Linked DNA regions of Homo sapiens. The protein of the gene in region 7 interacts with the protein of the main gene of each other region in a biochemical or structural test. Each region holds a gene or a part of one and is shown on either strand. Other genes may lie near its edges.

What was found.
Region 1: the proteins of SLC16A7 (region 7) and MAST2 interact in a test that uses a peptide from one of them, tested with the Homo sapiens proteins (one large-scale study listed by IntAct).
Region 2: the proteins of SLC16A7 (region 7) and TJP2 interact in a test that uses a peptide from one of them, tested with the Homo sapiens proteins (one large-scale study listed by IntAct).
Region 3: the proteins of SLC16A7 (region 7) and RHPN1 interact in a test that uses a peptide from one of them, tested with the Homo sapiens proteins (one large-scale study listed by IntAct).
Region 4: the proteins of SLC16A7 (region 7) and DLG5 interact in a test that uses a peptide from one of them, tested with the Homo sapiens proteins (one large-scale study listed by IntAct).
Region 5: the proteins of SLC16A7 (region 7) and FRMPD4 interact in a test that uses a peptide from one of them, tested with the Homo sapiens proteins (one large-scale study listed by IntAct).
Region 6: the proteins of SLC16A7 (region 7) and LIMK2 interact in a test that uses a peptide from one of them, tested with the Homo sapiens proteins (one large-scale study listed by IntAct).

What each region holds. Positions count from the first base shown.
Region 1 is NC_000001.11:45,801,911-45,806,498, forward strand, and holds the start of MAST2 (microtubule-associated serine/threonine-protein kinase 2), read left to right. Parts: upstream 1-1,701; 5' UTR 1,702-1,985; coding exon 1,986-2,162; intron 2,163-4,588. UniProt on the Homo sapiens protein: Appears to link the dystrophin/utrophin network with microtubule filaments via the syntrophins. Phosphorylation of DMD or UTRN may modulate their affinities for associated proteins. Functions in a multi-protein complex in spermatid maturation.
Region 2 is NC_000009.12:69,218,980-69,223,032, reverse strand, and holds part of TJP2 (tight junction protein 2), read right to left. Parts: intron 2,147-4,053; coding exon 1,537-2,146; intron 1-1,536. UniProt on the Homo sapiens protein: Plays a role in tight junctions and adherens junctions. Acts as a positive regulator of RANKL-induced osteoclast differentiation, potentially via mediating downstream transcriptional activity.
Region 3 is NC_000008.11:143,371,461-143,375,513, forward strand, and holds part of RHPN1 (rhophilin-1), read left to right. Parts: intron 1-2,271; exon of another isoform or gene 2,272-2,674; coding exon of another isoform or gene 2,675-2,833; exon of another isoform or gene 2,834-2,837; intron 2,838-4,053. UniProt on the Homo sapiens protein: Has no enzymatic activity. May serve as a target for Rho, and interact with some cytoskeletal component upon Rho binding or relay a Rho signal to other molecules.
Region 4 is NC_000010.11:77,923,591-77,928,353, forward strand, and holds the start of DLG5 (disks large homolog 5), read right to left. Parts: upstream 3,166-4,763; 5' UTR 2,931-3,165; coding exon 2,627-2,930; intron 1-2,626. UniProt on the Homo sapiens protein: Acts as a regulator of the Hippo signaling pathway.
Region 5 is NC_000023.11:12,718,420-12,722,472, forward strand, and holds part of FRMPD4 (FERM and PDZ domain-containing protein 4), read left to right. Parts: coding exon 1-371; intron 372-2,109; coding exon of another isoform or gene 2,110-2,114; coding exon 2,115-3,439; 3' UTR 3,440-4,053. UniProt on the Homo sapiens protein: Positive regulator of dendritic spine morphogenesis and density. Required for the maintenance of excitatory synaptic transmission. Binds phosphatidylinositol 4,5-bisphosphate.
Region 6 is NC_000022.11:31,274,511-31,278,563, reverse strand, and holds part of LIMK2 (LIM domain kinase 2), read right to left. Parts: intron 3,414-4,053; coding exon 3,256-3,413; intron 2,128-3,255; exon of another isoform or gene 1,776-2,127; coding exon of another isoform or gene 1,424-1,775; exon of another isoform or gene 926-1,423; intron 268-925; coding exon 123-267; 3' UTR 1-122. UniProt on the Homo sapiens protein: Serine/threonine-protein kinase that plays an essential role in the regulation of actin filament dynamics. Acts downstream of several Rho family GTPase signal transduction pathways.
Region 7 is NC_000012.12:59,703,862-59,707,914, reverse strand, and holds part of SLC16A7 (monocarboxylate transporter 2), read right to left. Parts: intron 3,144-4,053; 5' UTR 3,114-3,143; coding exon 2,897-3,113; intron 1-2,896. UniProt on the Homo sapiens protein: Proton-coupled monocarboxylate symporter. Catalyzes the rapid transport across the plasma membrane of monocarboxylates such as L-lactate, pyruvate and ketone bodies, acetoacetate, beta-hydroxybutyrate and acetate.

The DNA.
Region 1 (4,588 bases), on a different chromosome or scaffold from region 7:
AGGTTCATGCAGTTCTCAGCCTCCTGAGTAGCTGGGACTACAGGCACCCACCACCACGCCTGGCTAATTTTTTTGTATTTTTAGTAGAGACGGGGTTTCACTGTGTTAGCCAGGATGGTCTCGATCTCCTGAATTCATGATCTGCCCGCCTTGGCCTCCCAAAGTGCTGGGATTATAGGCGTGAGCCACTGCACCCGGTCCATTTAATTGTTTTAAGCAAGCAAGTAACATATAGGAAGAGTCTTGTGAGGGCTTTTTGAAGGATGAGTTTAAAGACAATGAGACTGGCATAAGTGAACCCGTTGAAGGCTTTCTCAGTCAAGTAGGTGAGGGAAGATGAAACTTGAGGTGGTGCCAATGGGACGGAAAGAGGAGGCAGATTGGAGAAATAGTGAGGTTATAGAGGCAATAAGACTTGTTCATTTATTGGATGTGAGGAAAGGACAAGGAAGGAGTCCAGGATGATTTCCAGGTTTCTGGTTGAGGCAACTGGATGGGTGGTAAGGAACTGGGACAGGGAATAGAGGAGCAGGCTGGTGACAGGCCGTAGAGCACATTGGTTATGTGCATCCTCCCGGCCTCCCAGAAGGAATCCATCACTTTTTCCACTTTTATAGGTGTTTCCGCACTGTCTTTCTGTCCGGATCTGGCAGACCTGGGTTTGAGTCCTGGCTCTGGACTTATAAGCTGTGTGATGTTGAGCATATTATGTAATTTGAGCCTATTTCCTCAACTGTAAAATGGAAATACAACTTACTTCTTGTTTGTGTATGTCTGAATTGAATGCACAGTGTGTGGTATGCAGTGGGCACTCCATAGTGTTGGCTATTTTTATTACTCAGAAAGGGGTCAGGGAAGAGGCCCAGGACAAATGGGTGAAGGCTTTAAGCAAGGCTTCTAGGTCAAAAGAGGAAAAACACAACATGTGGCAGACCAGCTGAAGCCAGAGGGAGGCCAGAGCTGAGCTACCACCACATGTTGCTGAGCAGATGAGTCACTGCAGGCAGCAGGTCAGGCTACCCAGGCCACAGCAGACTGGGCTGGGCTCTACACGATGACTTCATTGTATGCCTTTTTTGTCCTCTCCTCCTCCCAGAAGGAATCCATCACTTTTTCCACTTTTATAGGCGTTTCCACACTGTCTTACTGTCCGGAAAGAGCAAACACGGTGGAAAGGGACAGAAGAGCCAGAATTCCGTCTAGTTTGATCACTGATTTGCTGGGTGACCTGGTGCATTTCACTTCGCCTCAGTCTCTTTATCTGTAATATGAGAATGCGCAGATTTGCCTCCTAAGTGTGATGTGAGAATTAGGTGAGAGTTGGCAGGCACTAAATAAAAAAGCATGCATTAGCCTTCTATTCATTAGTTGTGTTATTCTGTCTCCTTCCTGCTCCCGGCCCCTCTCTCCCTAGTTCTTTGAGGACACCGATCGACTCGAACTCATTTTTGGGTCCCCAGCACTGAGCTTGGCCCAGCAGTTTCATGAATGGATGAATGAAAGATTCAATGGGAGTCCGCAGCCGCTGACGGCGCGCCGAGAGCCCCGCTCGCTTCTGGTCCTCCGACTGCGCGCCAGGGCCACGGGCGGGTCCTTTGCGACCGTTCGCTGGCGCGTGCGCGGGAGGCGGCGCGCGGCCGGAGGTGGCGGGCGGGCTCCCGGTGCGCGCGCGTGAGGGGCGGGGCCGGCCGAAGGCTGGCTGTAGGCAGGCGGCTGAGCCGGCGGCGGGTGGCCTGCCCAACGTGTGCTGGGTGGGAGAAGGCGAGGCGTCAGCGATGCTGTCTCTTCCGTGAGGAGCGCAGAGGAGGTCGCGGCGCCGGAGGCCCCAGAAGGCTCGAAGGCGCCGCGGGCTGGGGTCGGTGGCTTAGGGAGCCCGTCCGGCCATGGTGGCCGCGGGTGGTGGTTGGCGCGGCTGCGCTGCGGCCCGGGGCAGTGCGGAGCCGGGACAGTCGCGGCGCTGACGCCCGCGGGCCCCAGCTGCAGATATGAAGCGGAGCCGCTGCCGCGACCGACCGCAGCCGCCGCCGCCCGACCGCCGGGAGGATGGAGTTCAGCGGGCAGCGGAGCTGTCTCAGTCTTTGCCGCCGCGCCGGCGAGCGCCGCCCGGGAGGCAGCGGCTGGAGGAGCGGACGGGCCCCGCGGGGCCCGAGGGCAAGGAGCAGGTAGGGCGGGTTGGGATCCGGGAGGGTGAACCTGAATGGAAGCCGTGGGGGAGGGGATCTTCGGCGGGAGGACCCGGGCTGGAGCTTTGGAGGGGTGGGGTCTGAGTAGTTCGCGGGGAGGAGTGGGAGGTCTGGGGAGGCCGAGAAATGGGGAGTGGAGAAATGGAAGTGGTGGCCTGGGGTTGTATTGGAAATGGGGGTGTAGAAGAATGAAAAATTGGTGCAAGAGATAGTCAGGGGTTCTGGATGGGGCGAAAGGACGCTGGAATGTGGGCTGAGTGTGTGAGCTGCAACGAGTAGGCTTACTAAAGAGGCGTTGAGGAGTTATCCATAGGAGTAAATAGAGTAAGATGTAAGTCAATTTGATGTAGTGTTATCCTGTTTTCTAGAGGTTGTCCTTAAAATTGTAAAAACGGATGACACTCCCAAGCATTCTCTGATTTGGCCATCATTATACTTTTGTACCAGTGTGTTCACAATCATTGTTAAGGCTCTCTTTACCAACCATCTATTTCACAAGAAAGCACTTGTGAAACACCTGCATGTGAGCAGTGTTAAGCCCAATTTTGTGAACAGAATTCGTAGATATATGGTTTGCCTGCTAGTTTTCCACTGAAAACACATTACTGGGAAAACACAGCAGCATACAAATATTCATGGAGTTTCTGAATGAACAGGATATGTTTATGTAATTTATTAGTCAAGAGTAGGTGTATTTATGAGTAGGGGATAAAGGTCAGTTTTATCAGGCAGGAGAAGCTGCCACTAGTAGCGGTAATAAGTTTAGTGAAAGGAGAATAAGTAATCCTTGGTCTTGTTGGATTTACAGAAAAATGTTCTGTAGTAATGAACTCTAGTGACAGCTTTCCTTTTGTTCAGCTCTATTCGGGATCCTACTGACTTCATCCATGAATGTTTTAAGACTTCTTATAGGTCTCTTACCTCTTTTCTCTCAGATAAATTAGCATTTTCCTTAGACATTTTTTTTTTTTTTTGAGACGAAGTCTCGCTCTGTCGCCCAGGGGAGAGTGCAGTGGCATTATTTCGGCTCACTGCAACCTCCACCTCCTGGGTTCAGCGATTCTCCTGCCTCAGCCTCCCGGCTAGCTGGGATTACAGGTGCCTACCACCATGTCCAGCTAATTTTTTTGTATTTTTAGCAGAGACAGGGTTTCACCATGTTGGCCAGGCTGGTCTGGAACTCTGACCTCAGGTAATCGGGATTACAGGCATGAGCCAGTGTGCCCGGCCCTTTAGACAGTTTAAAAATTATATACCATGCTAGGTAGCCCTTGGACTTTTCCCCCCTTTTGTTCTTCCACCTCTTATTCCCCACTGAGCCCTGAGGAGACTGCACCATTGACCATCTCTGCCCCGCTTCTAGCTGCTGAGCATTGTCCTCTTGCTGCAATTTACTCCCCCATGTGCCTAATACTTATCTTTTACATTCTCTGCAGTATCATCTAGTCAAAACTTGTACAATGAACTTCAAGTCCAGGTCCTTTCCTGTCTCAGTTTACCTGTCCAGTTGACCTTACTGCGTATTTCATGGTAGAGTTCAAGATTACTTGATTTTTCCCTCCTCTTTATTTTATGATTTTTGTGTTTTCTCATCCTTAGCTTCAGTCTCAGAGAAAAGTACTCATCCTCCTCTCCGAGGCTAATTTCTCTACTTATGTCCTTGATTTCATCCTCTTTTGTTTGCCTTAGACCCTTGTTACTCTCTTTGTTTTATATCACAAATAAAAACAAAACAACATAATTTCCCTGAATTGTGTAACCTACCCAAACTACTTTGTTATCTCTTCTTTGCTTCCCCAACAACCTTCTTGAAAAATGAGTTTGTATTCAGTGTCTTAGCTTCCTCACCTTGTATACATTTCTAATATGGTTTGGCTTCTTCACTTATGCTTTCCCAAAACTGATGTCTTTAAGGTCACCGAAAGCTTTTTTTGTGTGGGATTACTTTTTTATTGAGGTTTGACAAATCAAAGGTTCATTCAGTCCATGAAATATTACAGAATGAGTACCTGTATGATCACAACTCACATCAGGATGGAGAACATTCCCAGTACCCTAGAATGCTCCCTGTGCTTTCTCCTAGCACTACTCTTTTACAGATGTAACCTCCCTCACCACCTCTGTCACTATAGATTTGTTTTGAACTAATACTTCATATAAATGGAATCATAGTGTGTACTGTTTTGTGACCAGATTCTTTCATTCGGATCATGTCTTGAGACTCATCCATGTTGTTGCTTGTAGAAACAGTTCTTTTTCATTGCTGTGTAATTTTCCATTGTATGAATGTATTGTGATGGTTACTAAAACTTATTTTTGTTTTTGAGACAGGATCTCACTCTGTCACCCACGCTGGAGTGTAGTGGTGCCGTCATAGCTCACGGCAGCCTTGAACTCCCAGGCTC
Region 2 (4,053 bases), on a different chromosome or scaffold from region 7:
CAGTGACATGATCTCTGCTACTGCAACCTCTGCCCCTTGGGGTTCAAGCTATTCTCCTGCCTCAGCCTCCAGAGAAGTGGGGATTACAGGCACCCACCACCACGCCCACCTAATTTTTGCATTTTTAGTAGAGATGGGGTTTCATCATGTTGGCCAGGCTGGTCTCCAACTCCTGACCTCAAGTCATCCGCCCACCTCGGCCTCCCATAGTGCTGGGATTACAGGTGTGAGCCACTGCACCCGGCTCCACCCCATGGTTTCTGAGCTGGTGGGACTGGGTTGGGCCTGAGAGTCTGCATTTCTAAGGGGTGCCCAGGTGATGCACTGCTTTGAGAACCACTGGTCTCCTAGTTTAAAGCCAAAATTCTGAAGCCTGGCTCTTCCAATGATGACACAACTTTGTGTATATCAATGAACCTTTTGTGCCTCAGTTTCCTTGTCTATAAAATGGAGAAACAAGAGTCCTCCCTCATGAGGTAGTTCTGAGGATTAAACGAACGAATTGGTGTTAGGCATTTAGGTCAATGCTGGGTACAATGCTGGTTAAGTGCAATTAAGAGATAGCTCGGCCAGATGCGGTGGCTCACACCTGTAATCCCAGCACTTTGGGAGGCCAAGGTGGGCAGATCACCTGAGGTCAGGAGTTTGAGACCAGCCTGGCCAACCTGTCTCTACTGAAAATACAAAAATTAGCCGGGCGTGGTGGCAGGCACCTATAATCCCACCTACTTCGGAGACTGAGGCAGGAGAATCACTTGAACCCAGGAGGCAGAGGTTGCAGTGAGCCGAGATCATGCCACTGCACTCTCCAGCCAGGGTGACACAGTGAGACTCTGTCTCAAAAAAAAAAAAAAGTTAGCTGGCCAGGTGCAGTGGCTCATGCCTATAATCCCAGCACTTTGGGAGGCTGCAGTGGGCAGATCACCTGAGGTCAGAAGTTCAAGACCAGCCTGGCCAACACGGTGAAACCCCGTCTCTACTAAAAATAAAAAAATCAGCCAGGCATGGTGGTGCACGCCTGTGATCCCAGCTACTAGGGAGGCTGAGGCAGGAAAACTGCTTGAACCTGGGAGGCGGAGGTTGCAGTGAGCCCAGATTACGCCACTGCACTCCAGCCTGGGCAACAGAACAAGACTCAAGACTCCGTCTCAAAAAAAAAAAAAAAAAAAGTAGCTATTCCTGGCCAGGCGTGGTGGCTCATGCCTGTAATCCCAGCACTGTGAGAGATTCAGGTGGACGGATCACCTCAAGTCAGGAGTTCAAGTCCAGCCTGGCCAACATGTTGAAACCTGTCTCCACTAAAAACATAAAATTAGCTGGGCGTGGTGGCGGGTGCCTGTAGACCCAGCTACTCAGGAGGCTGAGGCAGGAGAATCACTTGAACCCGGGAGGTGGAGGTTGCAGTGAGCCGAGATCACGCCACTTCCCTCCAGCCTGGATGACAGAGCAACACTTTCGGGGGAAAAAAAAAAATTAAGAAAACAAAGGTTATTCATATCACAACAGTGCTTTTCTTCCCACATCAAGCATGCCTACCTTCGTTCGCTCTGCTTTTCATCAGGAGGACCCCGATGGGCCCCGGCCGCCCCCTAGGCTCGGGGCTGGGGCTCCGTGAGTGCGGGTGCTCGCGGCTGCGGCTTCGGGGTCCCCGAGAGCGGGCATCGTGGCGGGCCCCGCGCCTGTACTCCGGGCTGTAGGCCCGCTCGTAGTCTGGGTCGTAGGCCCGGTGATAGGCTCGCTCGTAGTCCTGGTCAATGCTCCGGCCGCGGCTGCGGTCACGGTCCCGGTCCCGGGATGGCCCAAAGTCGTGGTCCAGGCCCCGCTCCAGGCTCCGGCCACGGCTGCGGTCTCGGGTGCGCGCATGGTCTTGGTCCAGGCCCCGCTCCAGGCTCCGGCCACGGCTCCGGTCCCGGCTGAGGTCCCGCTCCCGGCTCCGGGCCCGCTCATGGGGACGCCCCCTTTCCGGGCTGTCCTCCCAGCTGCGGCTGCGCCCCCCATGGCTGTTCAGCCGGCTCCTCTCGCTGTAGCCACTCCGGAAACTTCTGCCATCAAACTCGTCCATCACCTCAAAAGCCCGGTCATCCTGATCCAGGGGAGGGCTGGCCTGAAGTGCGGCCACCTGGACCTTCCGGGGCCTCTTGACCACCTGTTGTCAAAACAAACTCAGTGTGGACGCAGGACAATCACAACTGAATGTGGAGAAGGCAGTGGTTAAGAGCCCTGGTTCTGGTTTCAGGAAAACCGTATCCCTGCCGACTCACTAAGGTTCAGGTTCCTCATCCGGAAACGGACAATAAAAATCTCACAGGGTTAGAATAGGACAATGACCGTGAAGCTCTGAGTACAGGGCCTTGAATTAAGGTAATAATAAAATAGTATCTCCAAAATCTGCTTCTACTCAAGTTTGAAAAGTCTCAGAGGCCCAAATCACTAAGTTATAAAACTCAAAAAACAAAAATCCAGAAAGTGTGACATTCTATACATAGCTGCCAAGGGGGCAAAGGCGGATAAAGAGAAGTTGATTGATGGGTACAAATATATGGTCTGATAGAAGAAATAAGACCTAATGTTAGATCGGTAGGGTGACTACAGCTTACAGGAATCTACTGTACATTCCAAAATAGCTGGAAGAAAATAATCTGAACGTTTCTACCATAAAGAAAAGACAATTATTTAAGGTGATGGATATTCCAAATACACTGATTTGAATTTTACAAATCATGTCTACAGCCATACCATCCTGAACGTGCCCAATCTCATCTGAATTTTACAAATCATATTAATGTATTAAATTAATCACACATACCCTATAACTATGCATTATGCATAAATTTTTAAAATTTTAAGGAAGAAAAGTCAATGCCTTATTTATTTATTTATTTAATTTATTATTAAGACAAAGTCTCGCTCTGTTGCCCAGGCTGGACTGTACTCAGCTCACTGCAACCTCCGCCTCCCAGGTTCAAGCGATTCTCGTGCCTCACCCTCCCGATAGCTGGGATTACAGGCGCACACCACCATGCCTGGCTAATTTTTGTATTTTTAGTAGAGACGGGGTTTCACCATGTTGGCCAGGCTGGTCTCGAACTCCTGACCTCAGGTGATCTGCCTGCCTCCATCTCCCAAAGTGCTGGCGTGAACCACTGAACCTGGCCCAATGCCATTTTTAAAGTGGGGGGTGGGGTAGAGGGGCAAGGGGAAAGAGGAACCCTTCTAGATTAAAAGGAACTAAAGAGATAATGATTAAATGCAATGAGTGAACTTTGGATCCTGGATAGGGAAGAAAACATATATCAAAGACATTTTGAGAGCTGCGTATGGTGGCTCACACCTGTAATCCCAGCACCTTGGGAGGCTGAGGTGGAAGGATCGCTTGAACCCAGGAGATCAAGATCAGCCTGGGAAACACAACAAGATCCCATCTCTAAAAATGAAAAAGACATCTTGAGATATGGACTGGATTTTAGATAATACTGTAAAATTATTACTTTTCTTAGATCGGATAATAGTATTATATAGATGAATGTCCTCATTCATAGGAAATGCATGTGAAGTAAGTAGAAATGAACTGTCATGTCTGTAACTTTCCTTCGCATGGTTGCCCAGAAAGACATGAGTGTTTATATACATACAGAGACCAAGTAAAGATGGCAGAATAGTAATATTTTAGAAGATAAATGTTTATTACACTGATCTTTCAACTTTCCTTTTTCTTTGAAAATCTTCATAATATAAAGTTGAAAAACATTAAATACCATATATGTGGCCGGGTGAGGTGGCTCACGCCTGTAATCCCAGCACTTTGGGAGGCCAAGGCTGGCGGATCACCTGAAGTTGGGAGTTCGGGACCAGCCTGACCAACATGGTGAAACCCCGTCTCTACTAAAAATACAAAATTAGACAGGTGTGGTGGTGCATGCCTGTAATCCCAGCTACTCGGGAGGCTGAGGCAGGAGAATCGCTTGAACCCAGGAGGCGGAGATTGTGGTCAGCCAAGATCGTGCCATTGCACTCCAGCCTGGGCAACAAGAGCAAAACTCTGTCTCAAAAAAA
Region 3 (4,053 bases), on a different chromosome or scaffold from region 7:
GCCCAGGGCCAGGGGATCCTGGGGGAGAGTGGAGGTCTGGCCCTGCTCTGATGTTTTGCTGTTCCCAGACCTGGGCTGGGATAACTATCTCTGCCTTTTGCCCGTCCCCAGGTCAGCCCCACTCTGGCCAGGGCCACACTGTTTCCTCCTGGGCAGAGGAGCCCCAGTGTCAGGGTTGGGGGGCTGTTTCTCTGTTCTTCGTCCCTCTCCATCGAGGCATGGCCAGGCCCTTCATGTGTGGCTGCCTCTCGGGACCCCCACAGACCACAGCCTCTCTGTCCTTTCCTAATGCAAGGCGGAAATGGCCACAGTGGGGTGTCAGGGCACCGTGGACGTGGGGGTGGGGAGCTCCAGGTCACCTTTGTCTCCAGAGGGTGGGGAGGTTGTAGCAGGAGTAGGGGCCTGAACGCCTGTGTCTATGCCCCTTCCACTGGGCTCAACCTTCAACCCAGTGTGGAAAGTGGGGCATGGGCCGCCCACCTCCAAGGTCTACCCAGCCTCAAAGGTCCGGCTCGGGTCTGCTCCTCCGCCTGTAGGCCGGGAAGTCACTTGGCCTGCAGGGAGCACTGCGGGTAGGGAGGCCGAGGAATGGACCAGGCCCACAGCAGGTGCCTGTGGGGCTCCAAGGGGCCAGGCTCCCCGCAGCTCTCCTGGGGCCAGGAGGGGAGCAGGGACCTGGCTGGGTGTCTGATGCCCGTCGCACAGCCAGAGCCCTTAAAGCTGCTGGAGCCTTGCAGCGGGGCCTTTGCGGGGAGGGGGTGTAGCTGCGGTGGGTGGCACGGGGGTCTCCTAGGTACTGGGCAGAGGCCCTCGAGGTGGTAGCGCCGGTGGGAAAGGTAGGGATGGGAGGCGGGGGTGGGCGGGCCTCAGGTTCAGGGAGCTTCTCAGATCTGAGGCGCCCATGCCCCTCTCCCACCTGTGGGCCTCTCCAGCCCGAGTCCCTGAAGCAGCTCTGGAGGGAATTTCTTTTCTGGAGGAGGCGGGAGTGAGAAACGGGAGCAGGGTGAGGGTTCCCAAGTGCACATCGGCCCGTCCGCTGCTGGGTGGTGTCCACGGGGGCAGGGCTGGGCTGGGGGAGGCCAGGGTCCTGGGCCGGCACACCCTCCTTCCGGCTGCCTGTGTCCCTCCCTCCAGCTGCCTGTGTCCATCCCTCCGGCCGCCTGTGTCCCTCCCTCCGGCCCCTAAGCGCCAACTCATCTTCAGTTCAGGGACCTCCGTCAGGCTCCCTCACCCCAGCACTCAGCAGGAGGCTGCCGGCCTGGGTGTCCAGGGGATGGTGCGGGTGTCCAGCAGACAGTACAGGGGTTTGGGGGATGGTACAGGTGTCTGGGGGATGGCGTGGGTGTCCAGCAGATGGCGCAGGGGTTTGGGGGATGGCACAGGTGTCTGGGGGACAATGCGGGGGTTTGGGGGATGGCGTGGGTTCCAGGGGATGGTGCAGGGGCTTGGGGGATGGTGTGGGTTCCAGGGGACGGTGTGGGGGTTTGGGGATGGCGCGGGTTCCAGGGGACGGTGTGGGGGTTTGGGGATGGCGCGGGTTCCAGGGGATGGTGTGGGGGTTTGGGGATGGCGTGGGTTCCAGGGGACGGTGCGGGGGTTTGGGGATGGCGTGGGTTCCAGGGGACGGTGCGGGGGCTTGGGGGATGGTGTGGGTTCCAGGGGACGGTGTGGGGGTTTGGGGATGGCGTGGGTTCCAGGGGATGGTGCAGGGGCTTGGGGGATGGCGTGGGTTCCAGGGGATGGTGCGGGGGCTTGGGGGATGGTGTGGGTTCCAGGGGACGGTGTGGGGGTTTGGGGATGGCGCGGGTTCCAGGGGATGGTGTGGGGGTTTGGGGATGGCGTGGGTTCCAGGGGACGGTGTGGGGGTTTGGGGATGGCGCGGGTTCCAGGGGACGGGGCGGGGGCTTGGGGGATGGTGTGGGTTCCAGGGGACGGTGTGGGGGTTTGGGGATGGCGTGGGTTCCAGGGGACGGTGTGGGGGTTTGGGGATGGCGCGGGTTCCAGGGGACGGTGTGGGGGTTTGGGGATGGCGCGGGTTCCAGGGGACGGGGCGGGGGCTTGGGGGATGGTGTGGGTTCCAGGGGACGGGGCGGGGATTTGGGGGATGGCGTGGGTTCCAGGGGACGGTGTGGGGGTTTGGGGATGGCGCGGGTTCCAGGGGACGGGGCGGGGATTTGGGGGATGGTGTGGGTTCCAGGGGACGGTGTGGGGGTTTGGGGATGGCGCGGGTTCCAGGGGACGGGGCGGGGATTTGGGGGATGGCGTGGGTTCCAGGGGACGGTGCCTCATCCTCCAGTCTCTGTCTCTGCCTTCCCATGGCCACCTCCATGTGACTGTGTTCAAATTCCCCACCTCGTATAAGGACCCTTGTCACTGCGATTAAGGACCCCCTACTCCAGGGTGGCCTCATCTTAACTCATTATATCTGCAAAGACCCTATTTCTAGAAAAATTGCAGTCACAGGTACTGGGAGTCAGGACTTGAACCTGTCTTTTGTGGGGACACAATTCACCCATAATAGATGGTCACCCGCTCAGCTGGCTGCTGTGATTTTGGGGGGCTGGACGAGCAGGCCTTCTGTCTAGGAAATCAAACCTTTCTTGTATAATGGGAATAAACTAATTAAAATGCACACAAAGATCTCGTTCACATTAGCAAAAAGAACTCTCTCCAGATATCTAGGAGAAAACCCAGGAAAACACGTGTGAGCTCTTTACGGGGAAGACGGGAAGGCCTGAGAGACGTGTGTGCGTGGAGAGGGTGTCGGGTCCACAGAGGGGAAGACCCAGTGCGTGTGCACGTTGGCCCCATGAATCCGCAGCTTCATGCAGTGGTAGGTCAGTTTCATGGTGGCAAGATTCACCTTCAGACGCCACAAGGTCCTGGGGAAGAAGAGGTCCTGTCTCCCGACAAGGGCGGGAAGCAGTCCCAGGAGCCACCAGAGGCCTTGTCTTGCTGCTGACTGGCAGAAATGGCCAGGTTGGCCACGCCTGACTCAGACCAGGCTCGCCCCAGGGCTGGGTGGGAGTCAGTGTCCCTGAGCAGTGAGCCCTGAGCAGCACTGTGGGTCTCAAAGCATGGAAGGAGTGGGTGCTGGAGAGGCAAGCCAGCCAGCCCACGCCTGGGAGCCCACCCAGGGGACAGCCACAGGTAGCTGCAAATAATCTTGTCCGGGTGGAGACCCAGGCATTCCCACATGGCCACGGGGAAGAGTGGGGGTTGGGAGGCCATGGTGAGAGGGAGGGACACGTGAGGATCATGTGGGCAGGACCCCAACACCACAAGGGTGGGGTGGGCTGAGGCATGAAACTGGATCTCCCTAGAGTGAAATGTAAGCTCCAGCACGCTGGCACCACTGACGACACAGGAGCCATCAAAGTCCAGAAGGGGCCCCGCTGGGCACGCCCCACTCTTTCGCCATGGCTGGTGCTGGGCAGGGCCGCGGGGCTGCAGTCTGGGTGCAAGGCTCAGAGTCATTTCTCTGTGGATAGGGAGGGCACGGGTGTGCGTTCGCTTCGAGAACCATTCCCAAAGTCAGACCGCAGCCTCTGCACCAACCATCGGGGGCCAGTGGCCGCCCCCAGAGCCTCAGGGACCCTGTCCTTTGAGCCCACGCCTAAACCCACATGGGAATGATTTGGAGGCGTGGGTGAGTTGGATGGGAAAAAAATTGGGAGGGGCAAGGGGGGGATCCAGAATGAAATCCAGAAGCGCAGAAGGAAGGCTGTGAGGAGCAGTGGGCCGCCTCCTGCAGGGCTCCCGGAGCCCCTACTTGTCCAGGCTGCCTGGTGAGACCCTGGCTTCTGGTGTCCTTGGCAGGTGCCAGCCTCCCCCGCTGACCCCCATCACGAGTCAGCAGCTTACCCCACCGACCACGTCCTTCTGCATTGACTGCCTCCTGTCCTGCTCTGGCCAGGCCTGTGTTCACACTAGTTCTGTCCAGCCCCTCCCTGTGAGGCCAGCTCCAGCCCCAGCGCATGGTGACCATCCCGTTACCCATGGGCAGGATGCACTCCTCTCAGTGGCTGGCGAGGCGCAGCCTGGTGCGGGCGC
Region 4 (4,763 bases), on a different chromosome or scaffold from region 7:
TCTACACAATATACAAAAATTAGCTGGTGTGGTGGCATGTGCCTGTGGTCCCAGCTACTTGCGGGGCTGAGGCAGGAGGATGGCTTGAGACCAGGAGGCGGAGGCTGCAGTGAGCCGAGATTGTGCCACTGCACTCCAGCCTGGGTGACACAGTGAGACCCTGTCTCAAAAAAACAAAAGCCCCCAACACGCCACTGTTTGCTGACACACCATGTCACCCTCTTCCCCAGGGGCTTCAGGTGGCATCTTGCCATACCAAATGCTGTCCTAACTTTTTTCTTTCTTTTTTTTTGAGAAGGAGTCTTGCTCTGTCACCTAGGCTGGAATCCAAGGGCACCATGTCAACTCACTGTAACCTCCACTTCCCAGATTCAAGTGATTCTCCTGCCTCAGCCTCCCAAGTAGCTGGGACTACAGGCGCCCACAACCACGCCCAGTTAATTTTTGTATTTTTATTAGAGACGGGGTTTCACCATGTTGGCCAGGCTGGTCTCGAACTCCTGGCCTTAAGAGATCTGCCCGCCTCGGCCTCCCAAAGTGCTGGGATTACAGGCATGAGCCACCACACCCAACCAGCGTTTTTCTAATGCATTAAGTAAAATGAACTTAACTTCTCCTTGAAAAGTATTTTTCTAAGGATTTCATGACCCTCTCCAAAGTCACATAACTCTGCATTGTGGTAAAACTGGGGTCTGAAATCAATGCCCTAGGGGATAAAATCCAAACCCTAATCTCTGCCTTCCTTAGAGGTCAAGACTAGCTCCTAGAACTTCAGCCCCATGAGGCCCCACATTCTCCACCAGACACGGAAAGGGTGAGACCTAATTAATGGCAATTGATCCATCAATCAATTTTCAGAGATTAAGGCGAGCGTTGATTCACATGCTTCCCAACGCAGACTTCCAGTCTGTACTAAGTTCTGTGCTTTACGAAAGACTTTCAGAAACAGATCTTAACTTCTTCATTCAGAGATAGATTAGATAGATACATAGATACAATTAAAAAGAAAAAAATTACTTTGTTGAGATCCCCTCTGTCCTTATCCTCATGGCCACATCTGACAGTCCCTTCCTAGCATCTCCCAAAGCACTATCCCAGGAAAGGACTAGGTTTGCCCAGTAACTCTGACATGACCACAACTGGGGGGAAAGAATGCAGGTTTGAGGGACAGAGATGCAAGTCAGAAGCTCAAAGTGGAGACGGGAGGGCCACCAATGAAATGACCTGCTGTGTGGCCAGCAATTTAGTCTCTCTGTCAGTTTCCTGCAGCTACAAAAATTGAGGTTAAGATGGCCAACGTAAGAGAGCTGTTACCAGGAATGCCTTATAAAATCATTCCCTTAATAAGTGGGGCTTTTAACAGCCAAATAAATGGGTCCCATCAGCCTTTGACCTTCAGGTTGCTAAGGGCAGTTTCTCAGCCCTCTCGGTTCACTTGTTTTTCTTTTATACATATATCCTTATTTATTTTTACTGTACCTATCGATTCACTGTTAAAACAGGGACAAGACCTAGAAAGATGGCACTTTGTTTCCTGGCTCTGAACAAGTTAAATCAAACAATAGGTTATAATTCAAAATTCCTGGTGCCCAATACTTTCTGAGCATTTTAACCACTCCAAGCCAGAGTTTTCTCTCTGGCAAAGAATAACAGAAAGCTCACATAGTGGCAACGACAACTGAACGTGATAAAGCAGAGCGCCTGCCACAACAGTAGATGCCCAATAAATGCTAGTTCTCCTCCTCCCTCAGTGCCATGTCTTCTTCCTCCAGCTGCCTTGTCTAAAAAGGCTGGCTTCCACACTCCACGGCCAGGCCAGGACAAGCCTACCACTTGTCAGAAACTCCCGCCAGTATCCGTTCCTGCACCCAGACACACACTTACAAATCAGTCATCCCCAAGACCAAAGACACAGGGGTTCCAAAAGGCACCCTCAAGGGAACCAGTCACCAGCCTTCCTCGTTAAGCAGCTCTGTGCTCTCAGGGAGAGAACTTAGCCCCAGCAGCCACTACTAGGATTTTCCCATGGTGCAATGCAACTTCCCCAACTTTTCCGGGCCCAGTTTCCAAAGAAACCCAGGCAGGCGTTGTGCACAATCAGCCACCAGTCTGGGAGAGACTGGGCTCTGAGCAGAGAAAAAGGAGCTGGGACAGCCAGAAAATGAAAAAGCAGTTGTGGCCCCGGCACAGGATGGCAGCGACCAAAACTTAAGAGTAGGGGTCCTGGCCCAAGTCCCATTCTTCTGGACGGTACCCTTGGTTAAAGGCTAGCACAGGGTGCCAAAGCTAGCGGACGGTGAGGAGCCTCAGAAAAGGGACTGATGGACATCCTCCGAGGTACCCCCTACCCGCTACTGGACCTGGTGGCCCCCGGGGACCCTGTCGTCGAGGCACCTGAGAGTGAAGGCCTTCAGCGGGGGGCATTGTTCACAGCGAACGGCGGGACTGGGGGAGGCGGCGGGACTTCGGGATCCGCGCACCGCCGCCTCCCCAACTGGGCCAGAGGAGCGAGTCCACCGAGGCCATCGCCAGGTGGAGCGGCGGCCCCGGCGAGGTACCCTCGGCCAGCAGGAGGGAGAAGCGGAGGGCGCGTCCCAGAGGCGGGGGCCAAGGGTCTGCCACTCACCCGCGCCTTCGGCGGGCTGCGGCGGCCCGACGACGCCGTTCAGGTAGAGAATGGGCAGCAGGTGAGGCTGCGTCTTCTCCAGCGCCGCCCGCAGGTCCTGGAAGTGGTCCCGCTCCTTGGCCAAGAGCAGCTTGAGCAGCAGCTCCGCCTTGGCGCCTCCCGCCTCCTCGTCCAGCTGCCGCCGCTCGCCGGGACTGAGCGCTCCCGCGGCCTCGAGCAGCCCGAGCACGGCTTCCACCTCCGTCATGGCCTGGGCCAGGCTCTGCTGACACTGGGCGAGCAGCTCCCGGCGCTGGGGCTCCATGGTGGCGGGCCGCGCCGCCCCGCCCCGCCGGACGCCTCCCGGGCCCCCCGAGGCCGGCGGGCGGGCAGGCGAGCACCTCGGCAGCAGCCCTAGGGCGCCGGGAGCCGTGAGGCGGCGGGAGCCATGGGCCGGGGCCTGGGCGGGCTGGGGGCCCGGGGCGGCGGGCGGCGCTCAGCAGCGGCCGCCTCCCGGGCTCCGGAGCGCAGCCATGTTGGCTGCCGCGGCGGCGGGACTGGAAGAGGAGGAGGAGGAGACGGAGGAGGAGAAGGAGGAGGCGGAGGTGGGGACGGCGGCCGGGGCGCGCCCCGAGGCCGGGCTCCAGCCGGGCATGCTCCCCCTCCCCCTCAGCCTCCGCGCGCGCCGCCCGCCCCGCGAGAAAACTCGCCCCGAAAGCCGGGCCGCGCGCCGCCCCCAGAGCAAGACTACAACTCCCGGGAGAAAGTCGCCTGGGCCGTGTTTCCCAGGCTCCCGACAGCTCCGGCCCGGCTCGGAGGCCGCCTCGGCCCCCGTGCACCCCGGCCCGGCTCACCGGGGCCCCGCGGCCGCCACCCGCTCCCCCGTGGCCACAGCCCCGCCGCCGCCGGCCCGTCCCTCCTCTCTCCCCTCCCCAGGCCGTCCCTCCGGGAGGCGGCAGCAGGGGAGGAGGGGACGGGCGGAGGGGAGGGGTCCCCGGCCCGCCCGCTAGGCGGGGACGCGGCGCCGGCTGGTTCCCGGTCCCCCGAGGCCCAGGCGCAGCCGGGGGTGGGGGACACGGAGTCAGGCCTGGCACGCGGCCAGCCCACAAGCTGCTGGAGACCCCCTCATACAAATCTTGCCCCCAGTCCAGAGGGTCCTAATCTGAGAACTCCAAAATACAGCCTGGAGACAAATGGTGGGGAGGGTTTCCCCTAAATTTGGACATCTCCAGATTAAGACCTCCGCCGAATCCGTGAGGCTTTCCCTCTCCAAGGAGCTCCTAAGAGAATTTCCCAGTAAAATCGCCTCAACTGCGGTAAATAGGCTGTTCCCCGCGCCAGCATTTGAGAAGAGCTGGTCCCCAGAGTGTAAAGGAGTTAGGATGTTGGCAGGAGGAAGGATGTGTCGCCGGATGAGGAAAAGAAAGGTGGGTGTCTGCGGTGCAGTCCTTGGTCTTTCTGGCAAGTGAGGCGCTCTCCCCCTAAATGTCTCAGAGGGAGACAAATCAGCGGACTACCTTGCTTCCTTTGATGACTTGGAAAGGATCTGCAGTCCCCCTTAAAGCCCAAGAATGTCTTCTCTTCCACGACAGCCGTTTGTGGACACATACTGCTTACCTCCCTGACTGCAGGACAAGGTCCTTCAAAGCTGGAACTCTGACTGCGCTCAGTGATCCCGCAGTGCTCCTCTGTAGAGTGGGAACCCAGGTCCATTTCAAATATCTACGTTGGAATGAGTGGATCTCGCTGGGGGTGAGAGGCACTTTGTCTACCCACACTGCCAGTCCCAGCCACATGCCTCCTCCCTTCCCTCAAAAAGCAGTGTCTTCTTAGTCTGCTTCTTCAAGGGGAGAAGTCGTTTTTATTTATGGAAACGAACTCACTATATGGTAGAAAGAACAAGAGTATCAGAATTTGCACTTTGGACTTGGACTCCCCTCTAAGCAGCTGCACAAGGTGGAACAAACCAATAATCCTTGCTGATCTGTTTTGTCCTTAGGAAAAATGGTGGAGGGAGAATATTAGATCAGGGGTTCTTAGCCTTGGCTTCATGAATAAGCTCAAGGATGTCAATGAAGCTTTTGACATGATCTCAACTTTTTTGTGAACATTTATATATTTTTCTGGAATGGGGTCCATAGAGTTACAAGTTCTTTAA
Region 5 (4,053 bases), on a different chromosome or scaffold from region 7:
GATGTCATCACTGCAAAGCGAGGGCCATTTTTCTCTGCAGAGCTCCCAAGGCTCTTCAGTGGATGCAGGCTGTGGCACAGGCAGCAGTGGCAGTGCCTGTGCCACACCCGTGGAGTCGCCGCTCTGCCCCTCCCTGGGGAAGCACTTGATTCCTGACGCTTCTGGGAAAGGCGTGAATTACATTCCTTCAGAGGAGAGAGCCCCTGGGCTTCCCAACCACGGAGCCACCTTTAAGGAACTGCACCCACAGACAGAAGGGATGTGTCCACGGATGACAGTGCCTGCTCTGCACACAGCCATTAACACCGAACCCCTGTTTGGCACATTGAGAGATGGATGCCATCGGCTCCCCAAGATTAAGGAAACCACAGGTACAGCAATGATGGATTTAGCACTTTGTATGACATGCCAAGAGCATGTAAACCATATTTACAACAAACTTAAAAACGTAATGTCTGGAAGAAAAGTAAAAGGTAGAATTTTAAAAGGCCACAGAACTGTAAAGTACCAATCATTGATCCCCTGGTATTTAATAAATACTAAAGATTATAAAGGTGAAAATGGCATTTGCTCTTTATAATCTTACTCTGTGCTTGCTTTCAGAATTGGATGGGGCAATATGTTTTTCCTAAATTCTAAATGCAGATGTTTAGCAATGCCCAGTGTGACTTTTAGTTATATGATAGTATTGCTTAGAGTCACATAACAGTTTGATTTTCTTCCCAAGACATCTGAGTTCTAATTCTGCCATTTCATTATTGAGGGACAAGGAAGGATAAGAGAGCAGGGTATCAGGGAGATTGGAGGGGTTTGGAGAGATCATTTGCCTTTCGGCAATCTTACTGATTCCTCCCTACTCTGTAAGACTGCTCTATATGGATGTTCTGAAGTGTCTTGCATACCCCAGTGTCAGGAAGATTTTGAGGCTATTCCTGATGAGCTGCTTTATTTTCCCCAAAATAATAAAGTGTAAACACACGTAGAAAAAAGAACACATCCACCTTCTGTATCCCACCTTCACCACTCCACCACTCAATGGCAGGCATTCCCCTCACCGATCCACTTGGCTGGCCATCACATGGCAAAAGCAGATACTCTTTCATACTTTTATGTTTCAAATTATGTCATCAATAGTGTCTTTTCCATACAGGTCAATGGAAGTTAGTGACATCTTATATTGGTCATTTTCTATTCCTGTTCTTTTAAGATTTTCTACTTTCTCAAAACCCACCACTGGCTTTACCTCCTTTGGAAAAGCTGTCTGTGAATATCACCTAACTCATCACCCAACTGCATCTTTACCTCTAAACTAAGTCACACTGTTTAATCCTTCATGATTTATAAAGAACTTTCACCTGAGTTACCTCTTGCTTCTCACAAAAATTCTGTGAGATGGGGATTATTTGCTTCACATGACAGCTTTTCTTAAAGAAAAAAAAAAATGTTGAACAACTGGCCCAGTGTTTCAACTTCAGACTTTTACCAGGCAAACCTCATGCTGACTTCTTAAAAAGATTCACTTATTTAATTTGCACTAATTAAATTAGGCCACTTCTTTAAAAGAAAGAAAGGAAAGAAAGGAAAGGAAAGGAAAGGAAAGGAAAGGAAAGGAAAGGAAAGGAAAGGAAAGGAAAGAAAGAAAGAAAGAAAGAAAGAAAGAAAGAGAAAGAAAGAAAGGAGGAAGAAAGAAAGAAAAGAAAAGAAAAGTAACAATGCCAGATTTAACCTAATTCCCTTGAAATGAAACTTAATATCTCCAATATATTTGAATAATCTATACACAGTTGTTTTCTGTGTCTAAGCTTTGATGGGTAGATATTGGGAGTAAGGCAATTCATGAAATCCCTGAAAATGTTTGGGATTTCTAGACAATTCCAAATGAATCAGCAGTTCCAGAAATAACAGATTCCAGTATTTTCTTGATATTCATTAAAATGGAAATTTGTTATGAGATATCAAGAGGCAGTCTTTGGAAAGCAGGGTGACCTTAGCATCGGCAGCCCTTCCAGACTACAACCTTGAGAAATGACAGACATCATGTAGAGATGTAGTAAAAATGACCTCCCAGGAGATGCTTAATGATTCTCTCTGTTTTTCTACTACCCCTAGTGTAGCTTTGACAGAGCCTGGGAAGGAGAGACGAGGAGGCATGCCTTCAGCTTGGTCTCAACATCCTGAAGCTGATCCCATCCTGCTACCATCAAACATTCACTCGGAATCAAAGGTGCCAATTCCAAATCAAGACCCTAATGATTTCTCCCAAGCAAATCAGGCATACGGAGAGGCTGTGAGCTGGCGGCCACCGGATCTGAGAGGGGGGAGCCTCAGGACACCTCCCAGCCAGAAGGCTCTGAGACATAGCAGCAGTATCCTCTCCGGATCTGTCGATTTGGAGACCTTCCGAGAGAGAACCAAGGGTGCAGTCAGCTTAAAGTGTCCAGGCATCACAGAAGCACAGGAGGCCAGTTCTGAAAGGCGAGCAGAACTCCCCCTGGGGAGGAAGCTCACCAAAAGTTTTTCCCAAAGCTCAATGCACTTGAGCTCTGAGGGGAGGTTTCACAAAAGGTCCCCAGTGGCTCATAAAGACTCAAAGCTGTATAGGACATTACCCTTGCGGAAGCTGGAGGGCAGCAATTGGAGATGCCGGGGACCCTTCAGCTATTGCTTCCTGAACCGAGGGCAGGATGAAGATGGTGAGGAAGAAGAGGAGAGGGGAGAGGCCACCGTCCAGGTCTCTTGCCTCTATAGACCACAGATGACTCAAGCCATGCCAGAACCAAGCAGCCCATGCCTGGCTGTGGCGATTCAGAAGCAACGAGGGGAGCTATCCAGAGGGTCAGTGCTGAAGGTCTGGGCAGAAGACCTGCGAGACCCAGATGACTTGGACTTCAGCAACCTGGCTTTTGATGCCCGGATTGCAAGAATAAATGCCCTAAAGGAGAGCACATATGCAATGCCTGATGGGTTCCTTGCAGCCCAAAATGATGCCAATGAGCTGCTCTGTCTCGTCAGGGCAACCAAGGAGAAGAGGGAGGAGTCACGCCCTGAAGCGTACGACCTTACACTTTCTCAGTACAAGCAACTGTTATCCATTGAGTCCAGACAGTTGGGAAGTGCCTGTAGGAAAATGGCGATGGCTGAGAAAAGCCCGGAGGAGATGCTCCTAGCTATGACTTCCAGCTTTCAAGTGCTCTGTTGCCTAACAGAAGCTTGCATGCGATTAGTTAAAGTCGTGAACTCAGAAACACAGCGGCAGGAAATTGTAGGGAAGATCGATGAAGTGGTCATAAATTACATTTGTCTACTGAAAGCTGCCGAAGCAGCCACTGGAAAGAACCCTGGGGACCCTAATGTTGGACTCTCGGCGCGACACTCAACCACCATGGCCGCTCTCGTAAGCACACTGACACGTTCTCTCAAGAGGCTTTTAAACAAATAAATATGGAAGTCACGTCATAATCTACCTTTGCAAAGCCATACATGAACTTTTATTTACTTTGTGTGTATGATGAACAGATGTCTCCTTTCTTCTCTCTGTATATTTTGTTATTTTATATAAAATAGGAGATAAAAGTCACATTGATGAAATGTTGAAATGTACTAATCAGATGTATTCTGTTTATATTATACATATATATACACGTAAAAGAAATATCCAAGAAAGTGATGACATTTGGCTATTTTTCATATAGTTAAAACTCCAGGTATATGATGTGAAATTTTAAATTCTACCATGTTAGAGCAAAACAATGAATCCTATCCCCTTTCTTTCCAAGTAGCTACTTGGAAACCATATCATTCATATTTAGAAGTAAAACACAAAACAAAAAAGAGAGAGAAAAGAAAAGAAATCACAATGTATATAAAACAGTACTTATGTTTTAAAATTATGATTTTTAAGCATTGGAAATAGCAAAAAGACATTTAAAATTCAAGAAGCTATTATGAATTACTAGAGAATATATCTGTAATAAATTAATTTTTTGCTCATAGTATTTGGTTACTGGATGCTTTCTTCCAAGAATCCCACATATTTAATTTGGGTTTTTGCTA
Region 6 (4,053 bases), on a different chromosome or scaffold from region 7:
TTCTGCTTCTAAACATTCCGCCAATCCACAGGAAGCCCGGACGGCCCTGCTCACAGCAGGAATGGGGCACAGAGGGGCAATGCTGGCTGTAGAACACCCCCCTGCAGGGGGCTGGGCCAGGGCTAGGGAGGTGAGTCCCGGGTCAGGCCGTACTGCATGCTCACAGTGTGGTCCAACTCCTCCAGCTCTGCAGGCAGCGGGATGCCCAGCTCCCCCAGGTACAGGGAGAGGGCCTCAAAGGAGTCCTCCAATTTCGAGAATGCTGGTCTAGAAGGAAAAGAGGTAAATTAGAGGCAGGTGGAACATGAGCAGGGCCATGGGGTGGGTGGAAGGGATCTAGGCTCAGCTACTTCCTGGTTGTATAACGTCAGGCAAACTCCTTCACCTAGTAGTGCCTCTGTGAGAAATGGGCATAATGTTACCGGTACCTCATATATTTGCTATAAAGATTAGGTAACACTATAACAAGGCTGGACTAGCTGGAGTTAATACTTAAAAACAATAGGAGAAAAACTTCCCTCCCATATCTTAGAGAAAATGCAGTTATCAAAGGTGGAATCGGAAACACCAGGCTCCTAGTGCCACGGAAATGGCTTGGCTGCCCCGGAAGCCTAAGACAGCTCAGGCTTACTCCTCCTCCTCCATGTTTATGCTTAAATGTCATGTCACCTCAGTGAGGCCTGCTCTGACGACCATATTTAAAATTGCAACTGGTACCCTGAACAATCGTCTTTACTTGTCTTGACTCTTTTTCCATAGCATCTGCCACATTCTAATATTCAATATAGTTTACTTATTGTATCTACTGTATGATACAGTAGATACCATGCTAGAATCTATGTTCTATGAGGGTAAGCACCTTTATTTTGTTCGCTGCTGTAACCCAAGTGTTTAGAACTGTACCTAGCACACAGTAGGCATTCAATACTGTATATATATATTTTTTAATAAATTAAAGATATTTAGAATGACAAGAGGTATTAGAAAACAAATACTGTGTAGCTTCACAATTTCTCCTCAAGCTTTTACACTGGTGTTACTGAAGGACTGCGGTCCTTGGCCTATAAAGGAACAAGGTATAGATTCTCCCACCAGAAAATTTCAACTCTAATGTGGACCGCTGGAAATCATTTTTTTTTTTTTTTTTGAGCTGCACCAAAGGCGTACCCTACCTCGCTTTATTAAAGGGCCCGTGCCGCAGAGTCAATATAAAAACACAAAGTCCCATCAGTTTAATAACAATAAAAAAATCCAAAAGTGGAAAACTGAGGGGGCAGGGGAAGAGACCCCTGGGCCAGGGGCACGAGGAGCCCTGCTCATGGAACCAGGCCTGGCCGCAGGGTCCCCCGGTATTGCTGTTGCTACGAGGTCGGGGGGTAGCGATTGTCCTATGGGAGCCACCGTTCGCCTGGGTCGGGGACCCTCACTTCTTCTGGGGTGTGCTCAGCTTCTGCATGGCCCGGATCTTGTCCAGCAGGCCAGAGATGAAGGCCTCTGTGGGTTTGTAACAGTCAACCAGCAGCTCCTTGACCCTGGAAGCCCAGGCATCGTCACTCTCCATGTCCAGGAGCTCATCCACGTCAATCTCTAGTTCTGAGATCTCCTCTTCCTGGCAGTCGTAGAGGCGCGTGAGCTGCTCCAGGATCCACTCCTCTAGGTTGAGGTGCTTCCGTAGCTCCTTGGGGTCATACTTGATGGTGACCTTCCCTTGGCGCCTCACTGGGCCCTCATCATCCGCGCAGCCCGGGCCCTCTCCTGCGGCCCCGGGGGGGGCTCTGAAAGTAGATGCGTGGTCCTTGGCCGCCACTGCCTGGCCTGGGGGCCGGGGCCGGGGCCGCCAACGCCGCGCCCCCCGCGGTGCCGCTGTCCGCCACGGCGGCCTCCGGGGCCACGTGCGCGCGTGGGGCCCCTCCTTGTGCCGCCGCCTCCGTGACGCCCGCCGGCTGGCTCAGGTTAGCTCGCCGGCTCCGCGGCGAGGGCGGCGGCGGGGGCGCCCGGGGGCAGCTGCAGCATGCGGAGCCCCCGGGCCTGGCCTGGTCGCGCCCCGCCCCCTCCCCGCCGATCCGCCCGCCCTTTGTCCCCTGCGGCCGCCGCCGGGGCTGCCGCCGCCGAAGCGCTTTCTCTATCCGGAAACCATTTTTAAATAAAGATTATGTCCCAACTGGTTATCCTGGGAGGGTGGAGTTGGGGGTGAGGAGAATGTTGAGGGATATATTGGTTAAGGGAGATTACAGAAGACGTATTTCCTGTGCTATAAACTTTGGTAATGTTTGAACTTGTTTTTAAAAGAAACATGATTTTTGATGGCAGGAAAAGAACCCCATTTTTGAGACAGAGTTTCACTCTTGTTGCCGAGGCTGGAGTGCAATGGCGTGATATCGGCTCACTGCAACCTCCGCCCCTGGGTTCAAGCAATTCTCCTGCCTCAGCCTCCCAAGTAGCTGGGGTTACAGGCACCTGCCACCATGCCTGGCTAAGTTTTGTATTTTTAGTAGAGATGGGGTTTCACCATGTTGGCCAGGCTGGTCTCGAACTCCAGACCTCAGGTGATCCACCAGCCTCAGCCTCCCAAAGTGCTGGGATTACAGGTGTGAGCCATCGCGCCCAGCCAGATTCTCGTTTTTTAACCACACACTTGAAAAGACCTAGGGTAACTTTGGTAATAATGAAATTATTACCTGAGAAGAATAAAGGTAATTTTGAAAATACTTCCTCAAAGGAGAAATTAGCTAAATGCATAAAACTGCTCACTGTAGTTAAATACCTATTGTAAAGAGAAACTGGAAAAACCTGAACATCTACATTACAATATGTTCAGACAGTCTCTCAATAGAATTTCATGTTGTCGACAAAAATGATAAACAGGAAGACTGGATAGTAAACACAAGGGAAATGCAGGGCAAAATACAGAACTATTTACTATAAAAAAAAGTATATGTGTAGATATGGACAGGGGAATATCGAAAGATGAATACACTTACTGTATTCAAATGGTTTGGGTGAATTTCCTTCTTTTAAACTTTCTTTTAATGGCTGTGTTTCTGTGTCCTATCCAGATTACTTGCTGCTATGTCTTTACCTCTCTCTTCTCCAACCTGTACATATGTGTTGTCAGATGGCTCAGGGGTTGACAGCCACATTCTTGACCTCAAGGCTTCTCTCACCCCTGTGCTTGCAGAGGGCTCAGGGGTGGCCTTAGACAGAGGCAAACGTCCCAGGACCCTGTGAGCTGGGAGAAAAAGGCAGGATACCAACCTGCTCTCAGGCTCCAGTCTGCAGCAGATGGCGGCCAGCGGGAAGAAGGCCGGGGGACAATCTGTGGGAACAAACTTCTCCCAGAAAAGCTTCACGTTGAGGCCAAAGTCCAGTGTTCGGGGAAGGCAGTCAGGATCTGCATACACCTGCCCAATGATCTGTAGGGTAAGAAGACAGCTGTTTACAAAGGACTACAGAGGCCACAGATACTTGGCAAGGGAAAGGGATGCTGGGATGTGGACAGGAAGAATGGCAGAAGAGGAGGTGGTAAAATAGGTTAGAGAGCTCTCCCCAATCCCCAATCATCTCTCCAAATCTTACTAATCCAGACCTGTATCCACTGAGAGCTGGGTTACTGAAGAGGACTAAGAAGGGGCTTCACTGCAGAAGCCAAGTGTTCCAAATCAGCATCTGCTCCTAGCTTCCACTCATCCTACCCTGCCTTGTCTGTGTCTCCTTGTGGCTGTGTGTGTGTGCCAGAGTTAAGGCTCTATGAGGTGCTGGATCTGATTCATGTCTGAAACCCTCTGGCACCAGCCCAGTGCTCTGAACAGAGGTGTTCAATTAATATTAAAGAAAACAATTTTTTAAAACAAATCTTCCTTCATGGCCAGGCACGGTAGCTCATGCCTGTAATCTCAGCACTTTGGGAGGCTGAAGCGGGTGGATCACCTGAGGTCAGGCATTTGAGACCAGCCTGGCCAATATGGCGAAACCCTGTCTCTACTGAAAATACAAAAATTAGCCAGGCGTGGTGGCGCACACCTGTAGTCCCAGCTACTTGGGAGGCTGAGGCAG
Region 7 (4,053 bases):
TGTTTCCAGTTTTAAAAGAAGGACCAAAGGTGAGCAGAATTTCTGCAATTCCTGACTTTTCTCTATGGCCAGAGATGAAACATTTGCATGTTTTAGCCCCGATAATGGAGGACTTTAGGCAATATTCCAGGTACTTACTTGGATCTCACCTAGATATTGCCTTCATCAATTACTAAATACCAAGAATTTGTATGTATCTAGCACTGCTTTCACAAAACAAGCATATATAAAATCCCTGTTAATATTTAACTTAGACATATTTTATTCATCTATCACCCTAAAAATTTTAAGGCAGCTTTTTCCAAATTTATAACTATTTTAACAAACTACCATTTTCTTCATGAATTTCAGAAGAGTTCTTTTGTGCTTTTAAAAAATTATACCATATATATTAAAATAGAAAAATAAGTATGAATAAAATAAAAACATTTATTTGTAGTAAATATAGTATATTTACTTTTTATAATTTCATATTGAGATTTAGTGGTTTGAGAAAGTTAATTATGCCATTGTTCATTCTAATGTTCCTTTTAGATCCAGCCAGAGGGTGGAGGGCTGTCATAGGCAAGTCTATAAACACATGCTTCTTTTGTTCAATGGAGAATATTGAGATACCAGGCTCTGACTAGGACTGGCTAGATGTTATGTAGTTCTGTTTCTTCCTTTGGGAAGGCTGTATTTCCCAGCATCCATGGCCCCTAACTCTGGGTAGGGCAGTATAAGAGTTCTGATCAATAGAATATGTACAGAAATAATGTTTATTCCTCCCAGGCATACCCCCTAAAATAGTCCATATGATCTTCCATGCTGTCTGCCTTTACTATTTGTCCAACAGATGGAGCAGATTTAGGGAACAACATACAAAGCCTTGGGTGATGGAATAGCCACTTTTTGAAACATTGCTTCAGAAAGAAATAACCTGTATTGTTTTAAGTCATCAAGACTCTGAGGTCTGAAAACTAACAGAGAATGTAAATTAAGATTTGGCTTAATTAAAACAGTATATAAAATTTTGTCCTACTGATGAGTTAGTCAACTATCTGCTCAATAAGGAATTATGACTATGTAAGACCTGAAGTTCAAATTCAATGGACTTATATTAATTCACTAGAAGAGACTGTTTCAATTGTATTTAAGAGGCAAGAAAACCCTCTACATATCTTAATATTAGCACGTTTTGGAGCTGAAATCAAGATGACTGTGTGCTGCTCTAGCAAAACATTATTAAACAACACCTGTCCCACAGGATACAGGAATATCTACTCTACAATACCTACTGTTTCTATGGTCACAAGAAATAACATTCTTACAATCTATAAAGCAACTGTCCAAAGGAGATTCATAGAATGTGTGTTAGAAGTAGAATTTTCCATTGACACGCCCAAATAGTATTTAAAGGATACCTTTTGATACTGGAAGAAAAATGCATGTTTAACCTAACCAAATGAATAAGGGAAACATATGCTGTATTAATATAAAGTCACTATATATAAAAAGTATAAAACACATTCCAACACCAACACACATAAACACACACACACACACACACACAGGGAATTATTTCAGGATCAACTGTTTACCTTCGTAGTACAACAAAAAGATAATGTCCTAAAGAATAATTATTATGTCACTGAACAAATGACATTGGTGGAGGTGGTACACAAGCCACTGAGCTGAAGTAGAAAGAATTGAATCAGGTTTATAGAAGGCCTGGGCCAGATCTGGCTTTGTCACTCTCTAGATGTAAAGAGAAAGTTATGAGAAAGTCAGAGACCACAGGTGTTAAATGCTAGGAGTTACAGTCTCTGTTTACTACTAACAAGTTGTTTGACTTGGGAGAGCTATTGTATATATTTCCTTAGCTATGGAATAAAGAGAAGATAATACTTATTTCACGGATCATTAAGAGGATTAAGTCATATCACACATATTAAGTACTTAGGCCTTGGGTGAAAGTAAATATTACTAAATACTGGATATTATACTAATGTTATATTTTCATGACTAAGAGCCATATTATCCTTACTTGAAAAATAAGAAATCACAGAAGATAATTGATATAATTTCTTTAAATGACTATAGTCTGAGTCTATATCTATCCCTTAAAGTCAAATATCCACTTGAAAAATAAAAACGCTAAAAGACATATTTTAAGTAATGACTTTCAAAAAATTCTACAAGAGAGTCTGGTCTGCTATTGAGATTGATTTACAGAAAATAGATGACATAATAAGGCACCAATAATTCCAAATTTGCAACATTTAGAAGTGGGATGGTACTTTGATTTCTTCATTATCCTTCATGACTAATACCCTCATTTGAACATAGAATGTAATAAGATAATTTCCAAGCAACAATTTAAGTTAAAAAGATGTCCTATTTAATGAGCCTTATAGAGATAAATAATTATTTCAGTCACACAAATTTGAATGGGTCTAGAATGTACATGTTAACCCTTCATTTTTGCAGCTTAAAGTGATGTACTTTCTGGGCTTATAAACTGTCAGCAACTTAAATTTTCTTCTCATTCAGAAGAAAGCATTTCTACCAGAGGTAGCGATTGTGAAAAATGACATCAGCAATATGTTGTGGACTTTATTTCAAACTAAATGAAGTAGCCTCACTTAGAAATTCCATAATTTAGTAAATCTTGCTTTGTGCTTACAAATTCTTATTCAAACAAATCCTCCATTAAGACTCAATTCGAAGCAAATAGCTTAAGATGCTGAATCACTAAAATCATTGAAATTTCAGTTCTAATTATACTTTTGATTGGTTTTAAGTGACTATAACATAAAAACAGGGTTTTAATATACCAAGACACTCCATGTAAAACATTGTGACATGGAGGAATTATTTTCTTAATTCAGGATTCTATTTATTGCAAGAAGCTTACCTCCTGCGTACATAACAGCCAGCATAATGGATGAAATCCATGCTATTTCACTGTAGGTAGTGTGGAATATTTGCTGAATTTCTTTGAAGAATACGGTGACAGCTTTGGGGAATGCATAGGAAAATCCAATGGAGATAAAAGCTGCTCCAACCACAATCCAACCCCATCCTCCATCTGGAGGTGGATGCACAGGTGGGGCACTTGGCATTGGTGGCATTTCTGCTCCTCTAGTGGAAATTCAAGTAACCTATATTAAAATAATGAAATAACAGTTTAAATTTTATTTCCCCTTTTGTTTACCACTCTTCATAGTCACTAAAATAGTACTTTCCAGTTAAAACTACAATATGATTTTTCATGAATATTTTTCACACTCTTATACTCAGAAAATTACCAGAAAATGTACAAAAACAATTGATGCAAGTTATATACCTTTGATTATTGTGGGCTAAATATTTAAATAATTTAATTTGATTATTGAAACAAAAATTACTCAAAGTGAAGTTAAGAATTTAGATCTGAACTGAAGTACCATTTTACATTATACATCAGTCATAGCTCTAAGATAGATCTGATACATATTCTACTTCAATCACCAGTTGTTTTAACCTCATTAATTGATACTTTTGGTCTCATTTTTCCTTCCTGTTTAAGGCTAAGCCAAGGAACGAAATGATGGATGCAAAGCCTTTTGACATGATCTATTGGCTTTTTTTATTGCTTTCTGTTGTCTACGCTTTTTGATGATTGTAGAGATAATTCTAACTCACTTTTTTCTTTTTCTTTTTTTTTTCTTTTTCTTTTTTTTTTTTTTTTTTTGAGACAGAGTCTCACTCTGTGGCCCAGGTTGGAGTGCAGTGGCATGATATTGGCTCACTGGAACCTGTGCCTCCCAGGTTCAAGCGATCCTCCTGCCTCAGACCCTAGTAACTGGGATTACAGGCAGGCGCCACCATGCCCGGCTAATTTTTGTGTTTTTAGTAGAGATGGGGTTTCGTCATGTTGGCCAAGCTGGTCTCGAACTCCTGACCTCAGATGATCCACCCACCTCAGCCTCCCAATGTGTTGGGATTACGGGTGTGAGCCACCGCATCCAGCCCCCACTATTTTTAAAAAATAAAAATTATATATTTAAGGTGTAAAACATGTTTTGTTAT